Linked DNA regions of Homo sapiens: all the other regions are linked to region 2. Evidence: fine-mapped expression QTL. A gene starts in region 2. Each other region holds a variant in brackets. All regions are shown on one strand. Distances are between the middles of the regions.

Region 1 (2,757 bases), 84 kb before region 2:
ACTTGTCAGGGAGGGGCAGACAGGGGTTTGGAGTCCTCTTTGCAAAGGCTCATCTTGAAGGTGGTGGGAAGCATGAAGGGGTGACAGACCTGCATCCTGGAAGCCCGTGAGACTGAAGCTATTCCCCAGTGGAAGAGAGGCAGACCAGGGTCTGGGTGAATACTCGTGTGGCTCTTACACAGGCCAAGCCCTAAACCAAAGGCTTTGGTGGTGACTCTCATTTATAGGTGCCAGAACCCTAATGCAAACTGGCTCAGCCAACAGGAAAATTTATCGGCTCATGGTACTGAAAGCCTCAGAGGTAGGCTTCAGGCTCGGCTGGATGCACGGGTTCAAATGCTATCAGGACTAGGTCTCTCTCAGTTCTGCTTTGCAATGTGGGTTGGCTTCACTTTCAGGCAGGTTGGTCCTCCTTCTGGGGGCAAAGGTGGTCCCTGGCAGCCCAGCCTGCATCCCATTAGCTCAGCCACCTTGGTGAAAGGGGAATCCCCAAATGACAGTCAGGGAGCTGCCCCCGGGACAGAAGAGATGGGCACAAGCAGGTGGGAGCCACAGCCGTAACAGCTGACCTCGGTGGGCATGTTCCATGCTAATCTGGAGCATCTGGGCTGCTTCCCAGAAACTGGCCTCCCCTAATTTATCAAGGCTGGTCCAGGAATGCCTCCTGGAAGAAGTGGCACAGCAAAAGCACGTTCTGGAGACACTTTCTGTCCTTGACTTTGAGAAGGTCGGCAAGGCAACATCCATTGAAGAGAGTAAGTAGCTGCCTGCCACCCAGGGGCTGCCTATGTGAGCGGCACGGGGACGGGATCAAAGCTCGGGGAGCCTCTTCTGCCTTCCTAATAGCCAGAGTTAATCGGGGCCCAGAGTGGAGGCTGTGGCTGGGCTGGGCTCAGAGATACACACTCTTTGTGGGGAGGTAAGGGAGACAAGTCCTGGAGTTGCAGCACACTCTTCAGTCAGCTGTGTGACTCTAGGCAAATGATTCACATCTCTGAGCCTCTGCTTCCCTATCTGCATAGGAGGAGGGCACTGCACGGGGTTCAGTGAGGTAACCCCAGGCCACATTCAAGGTGCAGAATGTGCCGTCAAACAGTAGCTGTGATCCCAGCTGTGCCTCTGCCCCGTGGGACCTCCCCTCAGAAGGCCAGGTTCCTTGTCTGTAAGGAGAGGCTGGTGACAGCAGCCCCTCCCAGGTTGTTGTGGGGACTGCAGGTGGTGGCCCTGGTAAGATGCTTAGAGCCAAAGTTGCTCACGTGTCACATGGGAATGCAGGGAAGGGACCTCGCATCAAGCCACACCGTCCCCTCCTCCCTACCCCCTCAGGTCCTAGTGGAGGGAAACCTTTC[G/A]GGTCCTTGTCATGTGCTCTCCCCGAGTCACCATTCAGGTTTCTGAACTGGGGCTTTCAGTCATCCCACAGGCCTCGCGGACGAAGGGGTGCCTGAAGCTGTGGAGAGGGTGCACAGGGCCTGGCAGGGTCCTGTCCTGCCCTGCCACGACGCTGCTGAACCAGCTCAAGAAAACCTTCCAGCACAGAGTCAGAGGGAAGTACCCAGGACAGCTGGAAATAGGTGGGTTCCCTTCTGTCCTGTCGTCCCCTCCCACAGAAAGGCTGTATTGAGTCTCCAGGGCCTTCAGGGTGGCCACAGCTGGCCTCATTTCAGCCCTGTCTTCACCTCTGTGTCTTCATGCCATCGGACGGAGGAGCTTTCTCAGCTTCAGTGCGAGTCACCGCCCTTTCACCGGGCGAGAAGGGGCCTCCACGTGGGGCCTTCTGAGCAGTCTGTGGAGCCCTGAAGCTGCGTGCAAACTTGGTGGGCCGGTGCATTTTTTTTTTTTTTTTTTTTTGAGATGGAGTCTCACTCTGTCGCCCAGGCTATAGTGCTGTGGCACAATCATGGCTCACTGCAACCTCTACCTCCCGGGTTCAAGCGATTCTTCTGCCTCAGCCTCCCGAGTAGCTGGGATTACAGGTGTGCACCACCACGCTTGGCTAATTTTCTTTTTTTGTATTTTTAGTAGAGACGGGGTTTCGCCATATTGGCCAGGCTGGTCTCGAACTCCTGACCTTGTGATTCGCCCGCCTCGGCCTCCCAAAGTGCTGGGATTACAGGCATGAGCCACTGCGCCCGGCCGCCAGAGCATTTTTCTGGGGACAGATTCCATGCCTCCCACCAGAGCCTGACGGGTAAAGAATGAACCTTATGGGAAGGGAGGCAGGCAGGGGCCCACGAGGGTATCTAGAAATGCTGGCTGGACTGCGTTCTTCCCCAGAATTTGCCTTTCTCTGTGGAGCAAGTGAAAGGTGACAGTCATGTTCCAAGCACCACCTGGACTGCTTGTTGACATGCATATTCCCAGGCCCTGCCTCCGGGATTTTGATCCAGGTGTGGTGTGGGGCCCAGGGCATGGGGATGAACCCAACACGGTCTGACTCAGGGTGAGTTGGAGTCACAGTCCTGACTCTAGCTGGGCACACTCCTCCCCTACAGCACAGGGAATGCAGTGAGGGACACCTGCCCTCGTGCCATCAGAAACCCTTTTTTTTTTTGAGATGGGGTTTCACTCATGGTTGCCCAGACTGGAATGCAGTGGCGCAATCTTGGCTCACTACAACCTCCACCTCCCGGGTTCAAGCGATTCTCCTGCCTCAGCCTCCAGAGTTGCTGGGAAACAGGCAGGCACCACCACACCCAGCTAATTTTGTATTTTTAGTAGAGATGGGGTTTCACCATGTTGGTCAGGCTGGTCTCGAAC
Region 2 (2,757 bases):
CAATTTGCCTTTTGAGCCTATAAGCTGAAAACAGAATCATCTGCTGTCTCCCTTTACACAAGTAACAAAATCTCTCTATTCTGTATATCGCTTATTTAAGATACTGTGCAAGTGTGGTTTTAGTTAATCTTAACAACCCCCGCAATGACATTTAATTGGGAGTATGTATCTTATTCAGCTGCTTGTGAAAGGAAGAGCTCTTTGTGTTTTTAACTACTTGTTTTATAGATATATGAGAAACCCTCCTTTCCTAACTTTTTAACACACAAGGAGATGACTCCTAAGACAAGGTCATCTCTGCCACGACCAAAGACTAAGCTGCTCATTGAGGAAAGATGCTATTTTAGAGAGGGTTAAAACGTTAACCTTCCTGAGTCCCTGCCTGAAAGAATAATATCATGGCCCCAATGGAGTGGGTACCGCAGGCCTCCTGGCTAGAAGGTTCTTTAGCCCCATATTCTCACGGCTTTCTGCTCCTCTTGGTTCAGCTCACAAAGCAAATGTCTCCTCCTTTGACAGGCCTTCCCTGATCCCCTTCTCTAAGACAGCCGGCCTTCTATGCAGTCACCCTGTACCCCGTTAGGAAGTCGTTCTCTTCACAGCACCTGTCACTATCTGAAATTATTTGCTTTTGTGTTTGATTGCCCTATTCGACTCTAGGCCCCACTAAGGCTAGGATCTTGCCTGTCCTGATTAGCAAACACCACCTCCAATGCCTAAGCGGTGCCTAGCACAGAATAAGCTTGCCAACTCCTATCCAATAAATGAATGAACAGAAAGGGGAAAGGGGACTGTCATCTCTGGGACTCGACGCACACTGAGACTAGGGGAAAGGAAATGTGAAGGAGGGACGGGGGGAGTAACCTTTTCCCCCAGGGAGACAAAGGAAGAGAGTCTGAGGTGGTCCACTCCAGAAAAGGAAATAGTGGGGGTGCTAAATCACCCCAGGGGACAAAGAGTGGACAGGCAGGGGGCGGGGTCGGGGTGCGAGGGATTCGCGTTGAGAGCACAGACCGGCGGTCCCCCGGCTTGAGAGATCACCCGAGCTGGAGAACAGAAGGGAGGTGGGGGATCGAAGGGGGCTCCGACGCTGCGGCGAGAAACACGCCCGCCCCGGGGACAAAGGGTGGGGGGACGCAGTGCGTCGCTGTCCCATCGAATCCTCAAGCAGTAGGAGCGAGGCAGAGGGCAAGACCCAGAGGGAGTCTGGGGCCTGGAGGTCTGAGGGGATGTTCAAGCGGCCTAAGCGAAGGGCCCGCCACGCTCCGGGGCGCTCCCGCACCTGGTAAATGGCCGCCCAGCTCCCGGACTTGTCGATCTGCTCGAACTCCTTTTCCATCTCCATGACGGGCCAGGGCGGCTGCTGCGCCTCCTTCTCGGCCCACTGCGCCGTCTGCCGCTCTAGGCCGCGTCGCGCTCTTAGCCCCGAGGCCCGCTGCAATCCCCGACCCCTGCAGCTACCGCCGCCCTAGCCGCTGCTGCTTCTTCATGTCAACCGGCAGCCGGAACTACGCATCACGCCTGCCAGGGGCTCCGCCCCTGAAGCAGAAGGACCAATCAGCGATCGAGAATTTCGACAAGCACTTCCGCGGGGAGGAGCCGGGGGCGGTGCTAGGGGAAGTGGCCCCAGCACCGCGAGATATCTAATAGCGCGCGTTCCCTCCTCCGCTTTGGGGCTCTGGGCTCGGGCGCGGCGCGCGCCTGTTGCCTAGGCGACCCCGGGAGCCCCGCCCACGGCGCGTGGGCTCTCCAGGCCCGGGAGGGCATTGAGTTCCAGCCCCGACCCGGCCCGTTGAGTCACAGAGTGAGTGGCCTTAAAGTAGTCATGCACCTCCTTTCCTGCAGGGCCTGGGCCCCAGCCTCAGTAATCCAAGCTGGAGTATGGGAGGAGGGCACCGTGCTCTATTTCCTGCCTCCCAGCTCTGGCCAGATGTCTGCCCTTTTTTCATGAAACTCAGGAGTATCATGTTTCACTACGCTGCTGGGGAAGCCCACTGCTCTCTAAGGGTAGTGTCCCTGTCTGAAACGCAGAATTTCCACTTGGGTGCTGCAGGAATGAATGGATGGGGATGGAATGATTTTCAGTGTTTCCCGAAGTATCAAGGAACTCCTGCTCAGACTGAACTAAGCAGAGCACAAATTCCATGGTGCATTATGTTAAATAAAAATCATAGGAGCCCAGGCGCGGTGGCTTACATCTGTAATCCCAGCACTTTGGGAGGCAGAGGCAGGCGGATGTCTTGAGGCCAGGAGTTCCAGACCAGCCTGGGTAACAGAATCAGACCTCGTCACTACTAAAAGTTAAAAAATTAGCCGGTGTGGTGGGGCCCAGCTGCTGGGGAGGCTGAGGCAGGAAGATCACCTGAGCCCAGGAGGTGGAAGCTGCAGTGAGCTGTTTTGGCGCCACTGCACTCCACCTTGGGTGGCAGAGAGAGACCCTGTCTTGAAAAAAAAGGGCTGGGTGTGGTGGCTCACACCTGTAATCCCAGCACTTTGGGAGACCGACGCAGGTGGATCACCTGAGGTCAAGAGTCCGAGACCAGCCTGACCAACATGGTGAAACTCGGTTTCTGCTAAAAAAAAAAAAAAAAAAAAAAATTAGCCGGGCGTGGTGGCGCATGCCTGTAATCCCAGCTACTTGGGAGGCTGAGGCAGGAGAATCGCTTGAACCCTGGAGGCAGAGGTTGCAGTGAGCCAAGATAGCTCCACTGCACTCCAGCCTGGGCAACAAGAGCGAAACAAACAAACAAAAAAAGT
Region 3 (2,757 bases), 26 kb after region 2:
GCTCATGCCTCTCATCCCCACACTTTGGAGGCCAAGGCAGGTGGATCACCCGAGGTCAGGAGCTCAAAACCACCCTGGTCAACATGGTGAAACCCTGTCTCTACTAAAAATAGAAAAATTAGCTGGGCGTGGTGGCGGGCACCTGTAATCCCAGCTATTCGGGAGGCTGAGGCAGGAGAATTGCTTGCAAACGGGAGGTGGAGGTTGCAGTGAGCCAAGATCATGCTGCTGCACTCCAGCCTGGGTGATAAGAACGAAACTCCATCTCAAAAAAAAAAAGAGTTCTCATCTTGTTACTCGTGAGTAGTATTCCATTGTACAGATGTACTGCCGTTTGTTCAATCTTTCCTCAGTAGAGGGGCATTTAGATGGTTTCCCATATTTTGGCCTTTATGAATAAAGCCACTATAAACGTTCTTGTACAGGTTTTTGTGTTTTTATTAAATAAACAGTTTTTATTTCATTTGGGTATATTTCTAAAAGTGGGATTTTTACTTTATTTATTTATTTATTTATTTATTTATTTTTATAGAAACGGGGTCTTACTGTGTTGACCAGGCTGGTCTCAAACTCCTGACCTCAAGCAATCCTCCCATCTTGGCCTCCCAAAGTGCTGGGATTATAGGCATAAGCCACTATGCCTGGCCAGGATTGGTGAGTTGTATGATAACCGTAGGTTTAACTTTACAAACAAACAAACAAACCTGCCAAACTGTTTCCAAAGAAGCTGTACTGTAGGAGGCTGAGGCACGAGAATCCCTTGTACCCAGGAGGTGGAGGTTCCAGTGAGCCGAGATTGTGTCACTGCACCTCAACCTGGGCAACAGAGCAAGACTCTGTCTCAAAAAAAGAAAGAAAGAAAGAAAGAAAGAAAGAAAGAAAGAAAGAAAGAAAGAAAGAGAGAGAGAAAGAAAGAAAGAGGAAAGGAAGGAAGGAAGGAAGGAAGGAAAGAAAGAAAGAAAGAAAAAAAAAAACAACCAAAGAAGCTCTACCGTTGTGCATTTCCACCAGTGTATGGGAGTTCCAGTTGCTCTGCATCTTAGTCAGCACTTGATGTTGTCTGTTGTCATTTAGTTTATTTTTATTATTTTAACCATGCTGAAATGAATTTTAAAAGTAAAAGTGGCTGGGCATGGTGGCTCACGCCTGTAATCCCAGCACTTTGGGAGGCCGAGGTGGGCAGATCACCTGAGGTCAGGAGTTTGAAACTAGCCTGGCCAACATGGAGAAACCCCCGTCTCTACTAAAAATACAAAATTAGCCAGGCATGGTGGCACATCCCTACTCGGGAGGCTGAGGCAGGAGAATTGCTTGAACCTGGGAGGCGGAGGTTGCAGTGAGCTGAGATTGCACAATTGCACTCTAGCCTGGGCAACAAGACTGAAACTGTGTCAAAAAAAAAAAAAAAAAAAA[G/AAG]GAAAAGTGACCATGGATAAAGGCTAAAATTTATAACTCAGACTCTAAGGCCCTGTGTGAACTGAGCCCTGCCCATTTCACCAGGCCACTCTCTGTTCTCCAGTATCCTTTCAGGTCTGGCTACAGGGCCTTTGCACATGCTGTCTACTCTACTTAGGATGCCATTCCTGCTTTCTGCCTGGCTAATGCCTATTGTCACATGGATCTCGTCCTAAAGGCACTTCCTTGTGGGTATGCCTAGATTCTGTTTCCTTGTTACATGTTTTCGTATCTGCCTTTCTTATTTACCACAGTGGTTCTCAACTGGGAGTGATTTTGCCCCCCAGGGGCCATTTGACAATGTCTGGAAACATTTTTGGTTGTCAAAACCAGGGTAAGAATGCTACTGGCATCTAGTGGGTAGAGGCCAGAGACGCTGCTAAATATCCTACAATGCCCAGAACAGCCTACAGGAATGATCCAGTCAAAATTTCACTAATGCGGAGGTTGAGAAACCTGTATCACAACGTAATCAACTAATTGCTTTTTATGGCTGCCTTCCTGTTCCCATCTCACTCCCCCACTTCCCCATCTAGGCTTCCCTTACCCCCTCCTCGCCATGTGTATTTAGCTGTTTAATGCCTCCTTTTCCTGCTAGAGTATAAAGCCTAAGGGGCAAGGATTGTGTCTGTCTTGTTTTCTATATATTGCGTATCATAGGTGCTTAATAAATGTGTCAAATGAATAAAAGAGCAAATGAAAACTATCTTTCATAAAGCACATCTTTAAGGACACCAGAAAGCTTTCCTCTTGACTTCTGTCTTGGTAACTCTAAATATTATTTGGAAAAAAAATAAACAAGGTGGTGGGGAGGAGGGAGAGGGAGAGAAAAGCAGAGAAGAGGAGGACAAGGAGAAAAGGAAGAGGGAGATAGAGAACACTGTCTTTGTAGACTCAATCTGAGCTGGAATTCCAGCACTTAACTGTCACATAGTCAAGAGCAAGTCACTTTCCCTCTCTGAGCTCGTTTTTCTCAACTGTACAATGGGAATCAGAAAACGAAAGTAACTGTGCTAATGGCTGGCAACTACCCTGCACTTTATAAATGTTAGTTTTGTTCCTTTCTTCCTTTCCCCTCCTTCTCCTAAGTTTCCTGGCCAGCATCAGTGCTCACTCATCCTCCTCAGCCCACTCAAGAGAGCTGCCTGAAGCTAGATGGACAGTTCTATAAATGCTGGTGACGTATACCCAACCTCCGGCACCCGCATCTCTCTGCCCAGAGCCTGTGTGCTTCATGTGCGCATGGCAGGTCACATGTGTGGGAAGGGAAGTGTACTGGAGTTGCTGGCCCCGGGCACCACCTTC

Alleles and levels. Positions count from the first base shown, and alleles are read on the strand shown. Sizes are in standard deviations (SD) of each study's normalised expression. Not every link is listed here.
In carriers of allele AAG in region 3, the expression in non-classical monocytes of the gene that starts at base 1,490 in region 2 tends to be lower than with G alone (large effect, 0.75 SD a copy in Schmiedel 2018).

What was found. PIP is the estimated chance that this variant, and not a neighbour inherited with it, causes the effect.
Region 1: its variant is fine-mapped to the expression of PTPN1 in whole blood (INTERVAL, PIP 0.97).
Region 3: its variant is fine-mapped to the expression of PTPN1 in non-classical monocytes (Schmiedel 2018, PIP 0.95).

The regions. Positions count from the first base shown.
Region 1 is chr20:50,593,367-50,596,123 of GRCh38, reverse strand. RIPOR3 (RIPOR family member 3) reads left to right here. Exons shown (of 22, transcript NM_001290268.2): 16 at 620-755; 17 at 1,410-1,571. Among named protein-coding and RNA genes, the nearest start is that of MIR645, 9.0 kb to the right of the region's middle. The variant G/A (reference allele first, on the strand shown) is at 1,350.
Region 2 is chr20:50,509,116-50,511,872 of GRCh38, reverse strand. PTPN1 (protein tyrosine phosphatase non-receptor type 1) reads right to left here and starts at 1,490. Exons shown (of 10, transcript NM_002827.4): 1 at 1,283-1,490. The coding sequence starts at 1,345. RefSeq lists enhancers at 1,417-1,516, 1,729-2,316 and a silencer at 1,627-1,856.
Region 3 is chr20:50,483,572-50,486,328 of GRCh38, reverse strand. No RefSeq gene overlaps it. Among named protein-coding and RNA genes, the nearest start is that of PTPN1, 25 kb to the left of the region's middle. RefSeq lists enhancers at 2,348-2,457, 2,498-2,547. The variant G/AAG (reference allele first, on the strand shown) is at 1,414.